Linked DNA regions of Homo sapiens: all the other regions are linked to region 2. The links come from fine-mapping of genetic effects on gene expression. A gene starts in region 2. Each other region holds a variant in brackets. All regions are shown on one strand. Distances are from middle to middle. Region 1 overlaps SLC1A2 (solute carrier family 1 member 2). Region 2 holds the start of CD44 (CD44 molecule (IN blood group)). Region 3 has its middle 30 kb from the start of CD44-DT. Region 4 overlaps CD44 (CD44 molecule (IN blood group)).

What was found. PIP is the estimated chance that this variant, and not a neighbour inherited with it, causes the effect.
Region 1: its variant is fine-mapped to the expression of CD44 in whole blood (TOPMed, PIP above 0.99).
Region 3: its variant is fine-mapped to the expression of CD44 in whole blood (INTERVAL, PIP 0.96).
Region 4: its variant is fine-mapped to the expression of CD44 in whole blood (INTERVAL, PIP above 0.99).

What each region holds. Positions count from the first base shown.
Region 1 is chr11:35,302,791-35,305,290 of GRCh38, reverse strand. The region is part of intron 5 of SLC1A2 (solute carrier family 1 member 2); the gene reads left to right. Among named protein-coding and RNA genes, the nearest start is that of SLC1A2-AS1, 22 kb to the right of the region's middle. The variant C/A (reference allele first, on the strand shown) is at 1,470.
Region 2 is chr11:35,137,962-35,140,711 of GRCh38, reverse strand. It overlaps CD44 (CD44 molecule (IN blood group)), which reads right to left and starts at 1,541. Exons shown (of 18, transcript NM_000610.4): 1 at 1,342-1,541. The coding sequence starts at 1,408. It overlaps CD44-DT (CD44 divergent transcript), which reads left to right and starts at 2,680. Exons shown (of 3, transcript NR_120528.1): 1 at 2,680-2,750. RefSeq lists enhancers at 144-644, 1,812-2,376 and a silencer at 1,832-1,901.
Region 3 is chr11:35,106,389-35,109,138 of GRCh38, reverse strand. No RefSeq gene overlaps it. Among named protein-coding and RNA genes, the nearest start is that of CD44-DT, 30 kb to the left of the region's middle. The variant C/T (reference allele first, on the strand shown) is at 1,514.
Region 4 is chr11:35,219,088-35,221,837 of GRCh38, reverse strand. CD44 (CD44 molecule (IN blood group)) reads right to left here. Exons shown (of 18, transcript NM_000610.4): 16 at 2,451-2,522; 17 at 106-184. Among named protein-coding and RNA genes, the nearest start is that of CD44-AS1, 5.5 kb to the right of the region's middle. The variant AG/G (reference allele first, on the strand shown) is at 1,074.

The DNA of each region.
Region 1 (2,500 bases), 160 kb before region 2:
AGCTGTGATCATTATTCAAAGTGGGTGGAGAGCTGAGGAGTTCAGTAAGAAAATACCTCCATGAGGGACAGAGGTTTATTACCATGTGAGCGGCTCTAGTCTGCCCAGTTTGCTCCCCTCCCACTCAGTGGGTCCACTCCCTTCCGTAACCTCCATCCATCACTAGAATGGTGTCCCCGAGACAGGAAATAGGGGCATTTGGCCAAAACCTGGGAGAAATGGTGAATCTGGATGGATGAAGTATGTTTATTTATCCAAGCACAATTTCTAAAGGTTTGGATGACAGCTACTTAGAGATGAATGAGCTCAGTAGTCCTTTCACGTTGTCATCTGAAAGATCACATGGCCTTGTCTCCTTAGTTGGGTTGTCAGATAAAATACAGAATGCCTGGATAAATTTGAATTTTAGATAAAAAGCAAATAGTTTTTTAGTGTAAGTCACAAATATTGCATGGGACATAATAATACTAAAAAAAAAGTATTCATTTTTTACCTGAAATTCAAAAAGTAATTGAGTGTCATGTTTGTTTGTTTGTTCCAAATTTGGTAAGCCTACTCCTTAGCCATCTAGAATGGTAGAGAGAAAGAGGAGAGAGAGGGAGCAGAATTGCACAGTCACTGAGAAGCAGAAGCAGATCTTTTTTGTTTGGCTTGGCAGGAAGCAGGTTGGATGAGTGAGAGTGAGGGAAGAGATGAGCTGACTAGGTTGCTGGGCAATGGAAGATCAATAAACATTGTTTAACAACCAGTGGGAGGTGAGAGGTGGAAGGAGCGAGGAGTAGGAAGGAGAGTTCCTCTGGGGAGATTTTGCAAATATCCCCAGCACCCACCACCGAGCAGCTCTTCTCCCTCACTGTCCAGCTATCTATGTTCCTTTCAGGTCCTTCCTAACTCCCCCATGGTCTTTTCTGGTGGGTCATAACTTAAAACACCCAACCCCCTTTTGTCAAAGTGTTCCTCAGTCTTCTCCATACTCAGGAGGAGCTTGAGGCCATGAACAATGGGGCCAGGGCTTTGGAGTGAATCATTCAAAGACTTTCCTGGTTGTTTCCAGAGTCTTGGTGGATTCTGGGAAGTCACAGGACCTTTGGCTCTACTGGGGAGTTTCAACACAACTCACTACTCTGTAACCCCAGCGGCCAAGTCCAAGAGGGTTTTGTTCAGATGCAACACCCCCGTTCCAGTGAGCAATTTCAATTAGGCAATGTTTACAAAGAAAAATTACAAGCTGAATACGGTTTCCATCCAAGTGCAGATCAAGGCTCTGGAAAGCCAAGGGAAGTTAGACTGTTGAGAAACTTCCCATTTACAAATCATGGCTGAAATAAGGTTCTTTCCACGGTCTTCTGAGGGTGGAGATAGTGGCTTTTTTATTTGTTTGTTTTGCTGTCTTTCTGTTTTTTGGCTTTGGAAAGTCCCGAGGATTAAGCACTTGCAATAAGTGAAGATACAACCCCAGCTCTTGCCTC[C/A]CACTTCTTTAAGGAACCATTTCTCTCCTAAAAAACCTCCAGAAACAATTCTGGTCTCCACCCTCTCCCAACTGCTTAAATCAACTCCAACTGTTCCTTTAAAAACCTATCTCTCATAGATATGGCCAGTTTCTGCTGACACTGAATGGAGCTTTTTTTATTCCAGTTCTTTGGGACCTTGATACCTCGGGCATTTTCTCTTAATTTCAAATGAAATTAACCAAGTAATATGAGCTATTCTCAGCCAGAATATTCAGATTGATTCTCTTTGACCTCCCACGTAGCAGACTCCTCTCCATGGGCTTGAGAGAAGGACTTGGGAATGGCCTGAAATTGATTTTGTACATTACTGCGGAACTAGTTCCCTCTGTCCTGGATCTAATCTTCCCTAAGCCTTTGTCTTTCCAGACCAATAACTTACTTGTGAAGTCATTTGTCAAGCTTTCTAGCTGAGAGCAAAAAGAGGAGATACTAAATGTGAAGTATTAGTAACCCCAAGTGCAAGTGATGGATTCTTTTTGCTGAAGATAGAAAGGATCCAGCAAAGGGTAGTTAGACAATCTGGGTTGATATGTGCTTGGTGTAAAGAGGTTAGTGGGTTAGATGACTAGGGAAAGAGTAAAGTCAAAGGTTCAGAGAGAAGGAATTTTGTTATAAGAGAATCAAATTATAATGCTAAAATTTACTGAGTATGGGTTAAGACTTTAGGCATAACTGGACACCATAGGAAACTGGATATAATAGGGAGGGACTGGAAATTAGGACTGCCAAATTGAGCAGGTTAGGTGTGGAGAAGAGGAGGAAAGAGAAGATGGCTCATACTTCAGAGTCAGAGAACAAGTCAGGTGGGGAAGCAAAGTCCTGTAGCCAAGGACATAGCAACACTGATTTATAGAACATGTAAGTAGTAAGAACTGAGACCTCAAGAATGGCAATACTAGATCAGGGGTCAGAGGTCAGGGAGCACATGGGGATTGGAAATTAGAAATCCAGATAGCCCCCAGGCAGTACTGGAAACACCTGTAAGCCGC
Region 2 (2,750 bases):
TTTCAGCTTCAGTAGTATAAATCCTAGATCCCCAAATCCCCACCTAGCAAAGACCTCTCACTCACACAGAAAGGGAGATGCATATGCACAGAGAACTCATCCTGCCTAGCCTCCACCTAGGGTCACTTTCTTCCTACTGCAGAAAGTAGGAAGATAGAGAAAGCAGAAAGTAATTCAAGATACTTTATACTGGGTACTCAATCTAAACTACCTGGGTGAGACTGTGTGTTTCAATTTCTCAGTACTCCCGTGGAACTGGGTTAATAAATATTTGCTGAGTAGAATTTACTGCATGCAGGCTGAGCTGTCTTAATGACCCAGCTGGCACTTCTTAAAAGAAAGATTAATTTTGGCCAGCGATAAGCAAATCGGCCATGTAATTATCTGTACATACATAGACAAAGAAAGAGAATGCTTGGAGTTGAGCCGTGCTAGAATATACCTTACACGCAGCCCCTCCCCTCCATAGCCACCACAAAGCACTGACCCTGTTTGGATGAGATATTGGAGCCCTAGCTCCAGGGTCCCTGATGTTGCCCTGGTATCAAGGCTCTTCTCTCTGCTCTGAGGCTGCCAGGCAGGGAATATAAGCCACCTTACTGTTGAGATTTCCCCACACTGATTGGCAGAAGCAGGAGGTGGTGAGGACCAAGCAGCTGGTCCAGTGGTTGCCTCTCATATTCATGCTCCCTATCCCAGGCTGGAATCTCATGGAGACCCAAGACCTCACCGCAGAGCTGGTTCAAGCTTCCACAGCGCTAAGGTGGCAGTGACACTGCGGACTGTAAGCTTTGGAACAAGGCTCAGTGGGGAGCTGGGAGAACCCAGGACCCCTTTCTGGAAAACCCATTGCCAGCTAGTCTCACACTTGGAATTGTGATCCCTTCTGTGACCACCTTGATAACAGCCACTCGCCCTGTTCCAGCCCCAGTCTCTGCCCCGCCCAGCTCTGCCCTGCCTAGACACAGCCCGGTGGGGCTTGGCGAGCCCTTGGGCACAGGAGCCTGTTAGTCCAGACAACGACTGTGCGCATCCGGGAGAACGGTTACTTTCTGCCATGTGCTGCAGCTCTAGCGACCTCGCCCAAAACTGCGCGCCGGCAGCCTGCCCAACAAACTTTCTTCTCTTTCTCTTTTTCTTTCAACCAAATGGTGCTTCCACAGACACATTCTCCAACGGTTTAGCGCAAATCCCAGCCCTGCTTTCCGGAGCCCAATGCACTTCGCAGACAGCTCACTTGACTCCAGTCCCCCAGGGCCGACTCAGCCGGAGGGGCTGCCGCCGGGTCCGCGCTGAGCACCCCGCACCCATCTTGCTGCCCAGGCTGCGGCGGGCACTCACCGATCTGCGCCAGGCTCAGCGGCACGAGGCAGAGTCCCCAGGCTGCGTGCCACCAAAACTTGTCCATGGTGTCCGGAGCGAACGGAGGGCGCGGGCGAAAGGAGCTGGAGGATCCCTGGGCGCGGGGCAGGGGCCGGCGGAGGACGGGACGAGGATGGCGGACCGAACCTGGCAGAGGCTGGGGTCCGCTGGGCAATGAGGCTGCCTCGGAAGTTGGCTGCAGTTTTTATTCGAGGTTGAAAACAGTGACCTAAGACGGAGGGAGGGAGCGAGCGAAGGACACACCCAAGCAAGGGGGGCTGTGACTAAGCAGCCCGCAGAGGTTTTAAGAAGTAGCAGCCCTCCCGGGCGGGCCCCTCTGCCCCCGCCCCGTGCTCTGCTGAGGCTGTAAATAATCGGGGCTGCCAGGGACGTGGGTCGGGGAACCTGGAGTGTCGCGGGGTGCCTGTGCCTCCGAGCCCCACTGGCCCCTGCGCCCAGAGACGCACTGGCTTTCTTCTCCCGCTGGCCCCGCGGCGTCAGGACAGAGGATGACCGAACCGTAAAACCTTGCACCATTGGGTTCAGCCTTTGGCCTCTCCTTTCCCGCTAAATTTCTCTGAATCCGGCTGGAGCAAGATCTCTGGGTTTCACAGGATGTTGGATATCCTGGGAGAGGAGCTGGAGAGAGGGCGAGGTCTTGCCCTGGGTGGCGCAGTGCCTCCGTGCCCACAGTGGGGAGTGAGGGGTGGGGAGTTGGTGAATCTTCCAAGTGGAAAGAGGGAGAGCTCATTCTTTTTCCCCTCAATAACAAGTCCACATGGCTTGAATGAATTTTAGCTTCTTGGCAGAACAGCTCAGGGAAAGCTACTGATGGCCTGTCATAGGGCTGGCATTTGGCTCAGCTAACCCATGTGTTCAAGCCAGTGTGAATGGGCACCTCTCTCCACACACATGCTCATTCATCCTCCTAAATATCCTTCCATCCGCCCATCCATCTATCCACCCATCTTTCCTTATGTCCTTCTGGGGCTCTCACATCCATCCATCCTCCTGTCCATCCACTAACCACTTAGGTCCATCTATCATCCCACTCATTCATTCATCCAACCACACACCTTTTAATTTATTCAACCACCTATTCTTCTATTCATCTTCCCATACAACTTCTCATCCATCATTCCACACTTCCTTTTTCACATCTCTTCATAAAACCACAACCATCCACCATCCTCTTCTCCACCCATCCACCCACATATCTGTTTATTGATATATCCACTCATTTCCCATCTGTCCAAGATCAACATATCCACCTATCATTTTATCCATTCTCTCATCCACCCATACGTTCATCTATTATTTTTGCCCCCATTATCCTCCTTTCTGTGTAAACATTAATTCATTTTCTCCCATCTTTCCTACCCAGCAGA
Region 3 (2,750 bases), 32 kb after region 2:
AGTTCAAATTTCTACAGACCTCTAGGGCAGGAGCAAAAGGCTGCCAGTCTCTGCATAGCAAGAGTGGCCTTTACTCCAGTGCCCAATAAGTTCCTCATCTCCATCTAAGAGCAACTCAGCCTGCACTTTATTGTCCATATCACTATCAGCATTTTGGTCAAAGTCATTCAACAAGTATCTAGGAAGTTCCAAACTTTCTCACATCTTCCTGTCTTATGATCCCTCTAAGTCTCTACAAGTTCCAAACTTTCCCATATTTTCCTTTCTTCTTTGGGGACCTCTGAACTGTTCCAACCTCTGCCTGTTACCCAGTTCCAAAGCCACTTCCATGTTTTCAAGTACCTTCACAGCAGCACCCCACTACCCAGTACCAATTTACTTTTCCCAGTCTGTTCTTACACTGTTATTAAAGGCATATCCAAGACTGGGTAATTTATAAAGGAAAAAGTTTTAATTGACTCACAGTTCAACATGGCTGGGGAGCCTCAGGAAACTTACAATCATGGCAGAAGGGGAAGCAAACACGTCCTTCTTCACATGGCAGCAGCAAGAAGTGCCAAATAAAAGGGGGAAAAGCCTCTTATGAAACCATCAGACCTCATGAGAACTCACTCACTATCATGAGAACAGAGCCATGGGGGTAACCAGCCACATGATTCAATTACCTCCCACTGGGTCCCTCCCATGACATGTGGGGATTATGGAAACTAAATTCAAGATGAGATTTGGGTAAAGACACAGCCAAACCATATCACTCTCTGACCAAGAGACATAGGTGGGAAATTCTCCAAATATAACAAGAGGGTTTAGATGCTGGGCAGTGAAACAGAATGACAGATGTCCATTTTGCTAGTTTGAGGAAAGTAAACATTATATAATTTTCATTTCCTTAAAAAATTCTATTTTCACACTGCTATAAAGAAATACCTGAGACTGGGTAATTTATAAAGGAAAGGTGTTTTAATTGACTCACAGTTACATATGGCTGAGGAGGCCTCAGGAAACTTACAATCATGGTCAAAGGGGAAGCAGACACATCCTCCATGGCAACAGGAGAGAGGGGGAGTGTTTGAAGGAGAAACTGTCAAACACTTACAAAACCATCAGATCTTGTGAGAACTCACTCACTATCACAAAAGCAGCATGGGGGAAACCACCCCCACGGTCCAATCACCTCCTACTAGATGCTTCCCTTGACACGTGGGAATTATGAGGATTACAATTTAAGATGAGATTTGGATGGGGACACAGCCATACCATATTACAGACATTTAAAAAATAATAAATTTACATGTTAGCCCCAAAGGAGCCAGTGTTTCCTTGGCATGAAAAGTGCTTTCTCAAAGTCTCTGCATCTTGGGGAGTCCAAAAAAATTGATTGTGTAGCTTTGAACATTTTAATAAGAAACTAGTATGTGGATACTGGGTAGAAACAGTAGACCTTGTCTAGACTAGCTATCTGGATTTTAGCTCATTATATGTTCACTTTTGAAATTTCACTAGTCTTATCTAT[C/T]AGAGTTTTAGCACAAAACAGATCCAAAGGATGATTGAAGAGAGAGTTAAGAGGAGCTATTACAAAAGTATAGACCTCCTTAGAGGAAGCAAAAAAGAGATAATGAAATACCCTGGGACTAGTAAGGACAGGATCTGTTATGATTATGTCTGAAACAGCAAAGAGAAGAAGCAAACCCAGGAGTCCTGCATCTGACAGAGGGCAAGAAGGTGCTGGTGATGTACCACAACATATACCATCAGTCCGCCTGACTTTAGCACCACAGGGTGGACAGTTGCACACACTTTACCTGAGTCCCACCTCAAGAGCAAAGATAGATTGTTCAAGGTCTTTCTTAATTGTGCTCCTTGGGGCTTTTTCCAAAGGTTCAGAAGGCCACTTAGCCAGCACAGTTACAATGGAGAAATTCGTGGAATATATGTCTCCAGGCGCAAACTCAATAGGTAGGTGGTGGAAGTGAGTGGATAAATGCCCGGAGCCCATCAGCCTCTGTGGAAATCATTCTGGGGCACATGCTCGTAATTCCTCAGGGAGCCCCCAAAGTCACTGCACCCCAATTGCCCACAACAATAACCAGATCATTTATAAACACTCCATTGGCTTTTCTTTCTTCTTTCTGCTCCCTGAGTCAACCTCCAACACTCAAGTTGCACTGCTTTCAAAAGAACCCAAACTAAGACACAGAAAATCAACTTTTGGCAGAGCAGCTCAATCACTGACAATCTGCAGCTGAACCTGAGGAATAAATAACCCTATATATCTCCTTCTACCCTCTGATATCCTGCCAGTTCCTCTCAGAAACCAGAAGTGAAAACATCTCGTTGATGTGGTCTGCAGAGACCAGTCTCCCAGGGCCCAGAGGAAGACCGAGAAGGGCAGAGAGTAGATTGGGAAGAGCAGATAGTAACTCTTCATCCTAGCCCATCTCTTTTGCCTTTTGGCCTCCATAAAGTCCCTCAAACACTGTATCATGTCAGGGTGAGTTCAGTCACATTGTCACCTGCAATCTAAAACTTTAATCACCACCTGTGCTCTTCTTAGAAGGTAGTGGGAGGAAACATAGGCAAAGATATAATTAACATAAAATATGGCTTCTACAGACCCTGTTTCTGTGCCTAGTCATTGGGATTAAGGTTATAACCATACTTTCCTTCTTCTACTACCCATTCTATGCTCTCCATACCTTCTGCCAGCACCCTGGTTGAATATGGTCCTTTACCTGTTGTGACCCAAACTT
Region 4 (2,750 bases), 81 kb before region 2:
CCCAGGCTGCTGGTTCCAGGGACTACGCTCTGAGCAGCAAGGATATAAAGCCCAGGTTTAAATGATGCCCTTTCCAAGTTGAAAGCCCCCAGGACAGCCCCTTACCTTCTTCGACTGTTGACTGCAATGCAAACTGCAAGAATCAAAGCCAAGGCCAAGAGGGATGCCAAGATGATCAGCCATTCTGGTATGAGTAAATTAAATGACATGCGTGAGCTTCAGAGACACACTTTGTAAAAACAAAAATGCACTTTATAATTGACCTAGTTGAAACAAGCACCACAGTCAGCGCTGCAGGGGGGTCTGGCCAATAGGTCCAGCCAATAGGCAGGTAATTCTGGAAGAGCAATTTGCTGAAGGTATTTGTCCAACAGCCTTCTTGCTTTAATCTTTTATCATCAGTCAGGATTTTCAAGTCCCTTCAGGAGAACTATGTTTCTAAAAAAGGACAGGATGACTTGTTGAATCTTGTAGATGCCTTTGGTATAATATTATTAAACATATAAAAGGAAATGTAGGCTTCTTTTGAAAGGAACATTTTTTTCCTGTATAAGAGCATCCACCTATCCACCTTACATTGTATTAAAAAACAAAAATGGAGGCAATAAAGGATTGGTTAAATAAATTAGGGTACATCTATTGCATTACGCACTACAATATGAGGAGGAAATATTCAATGACATGGAAGCCATGGTTAACCAGTAGGCAATGTTTGCTAAACACCGTGTAAGGTGTAATCACATTTTGGTATATATTTTACATTTTAAAATGACAGGAAAGGCCGGGTGCGGTGGCTCACGCCTGTAATCCCAGCACTTTAGGAGGCTGAAGTGGGTGAATCACGAGGTCAGGAGTTTGAGACCAGCCTGACCAACATGGTGAAACCCCATCTCTAAAACTACAAAAATTAGCTGGGCATGGTGGCATGCTGTAATCTCAGCTACTCAGGAGGCTGAGGCAGGAGAATCGCTTGAACTCAGGAAGCAGAGGTTGCAGTGGGCCGAGGTCGCGCCACTGCACTCCAGCCTGGGCAACAAAGCAAAACTCCATCTCAAAAAAAAAAAAAAAAAAAA[AG/G]ACGTATATTAAAATGGTAACCATGGTATTTCTGGATGGTGAGATTGATAATAATTGATTTATATTTCCATTATTTTATTTAGTTGTATTTTTTCAAATGTTTTCAATAATTATATATCACTTGTGGATTAATATTCTACACATTTTGAAATCAGGCTCTTTTAGGACTAAAATATGACTTGACAACTCCACTAAATTCAGTTGCAAAGTGGGTTGTATATGTGTGCAATGAACCAGGGCTTGAGAAAGAAGAGGCATGGAAAGTCTCATTATCTGTTTTCTTCTTGGAAATTTTGGTTTATCTCTGATTTCCTGCTCAGCACTACCTTTGCCTCACCTTTTCCTGGTTTAGATGAGTTTGGAGAGGGAGGTAGAGTCAGAAGTGGGGGAGACTGACAGGAGGGCCCGATTTCTGTTCTTCCTTTCTACTCCTGCCCACTGTGGCCCTGGTTTCCAGCCCTGAGATATCCCACCTGCACTGTCACTGGAGCTGGGAAGAATCTTGCTGCCTGATGACAGCTAAGGCTTCCCCTGTGCTCTCCCTTGGGACAGCCCACCCCTGTCTCTGTCTGGTCTGTCTTCAGGTGTGCTTAGGCAAGCTGGGGCAAAGGAGAACGGTGCATGCCACATTCTTCTCTTTCCCCAAGAGAGGCTCAGTCTGGAGACCTCTGAAGAGGAGAGAATTAAAAGGGTAATTTACAACCTTAGGAGAACCCTTCCCTTTAGTAATTCTCTATGACAAATCAATTTTAATTCCAAGTCAAATAAAGAATTTGCAACAAATGCCTTGTCTTGATGCTCAGGAGAACCAGGTGTCCCAGCCTCCTCACTGCACATGCATACTTTCTGAAAAGTTTATTCTGTCCACATCAGCAGGCGGTCCCTCGACCAAAAAAAAATTAGTTGGGGAACCAAAAGAAAGTTTTCACTCCATCTAACATAAATGCCTCTTGTAGCTCCTCCCTGTCTGTAATCGTAAAAGGAAAATTACATGCTTCACCTTGGACCCCAGAAATAAGTGGAAATTGGATTGGGATAGAAAGGACCTAGGTATGACATGGGGTCCTCTTGGTGATCATTCATTTAGGAAGGAAGCTTTAGTAACTAACATGGCACTTCTCTGGGACAGGCCAGGGACAGATCTGAGTATGAGCTCAGCTAGTTTGCAGAACCCAGGAAGAAAAGACTATTCCATCTTTTCCTACCAAGAGGGTGTAGTATTCTCATTCATCCTTTAACTTGTAAAGAGGAGCAATTGGATTCATATGTTGGGCATTGTGGAGAATGTGCTTTCAAATGAGTCTCTTCGTCCTTGCTGGGACATTCTGAGAAAGCTGCTTTCAGTGTGTTTTTCTGCCTCAAAGTTTGAAACTCACCTGGAATTTGGGGTGTCCTTATAGGACCAGAGGTTGTGTTTGCTCCACCTTCTTGACTCCCATGTGAGTGTCCTAAGGGGAAAAACAACATCTCTCAACCAAAGTTTGAAATGTGTAACCATGAGTTCCTTGTGGAGCTGCATAAAGGGCAGCTCTCCACATTCTGAATCACTGAGAAGCCATTTATGGATTCAAGCTGCAGATGTTTATAAAGCATTACACAAAAGATTTCCCCCCCACCTCATTTGATTAAGGCTAAGGCTTAGTAATGTTATTTTGTGTCAAGGAACATGAGAATTC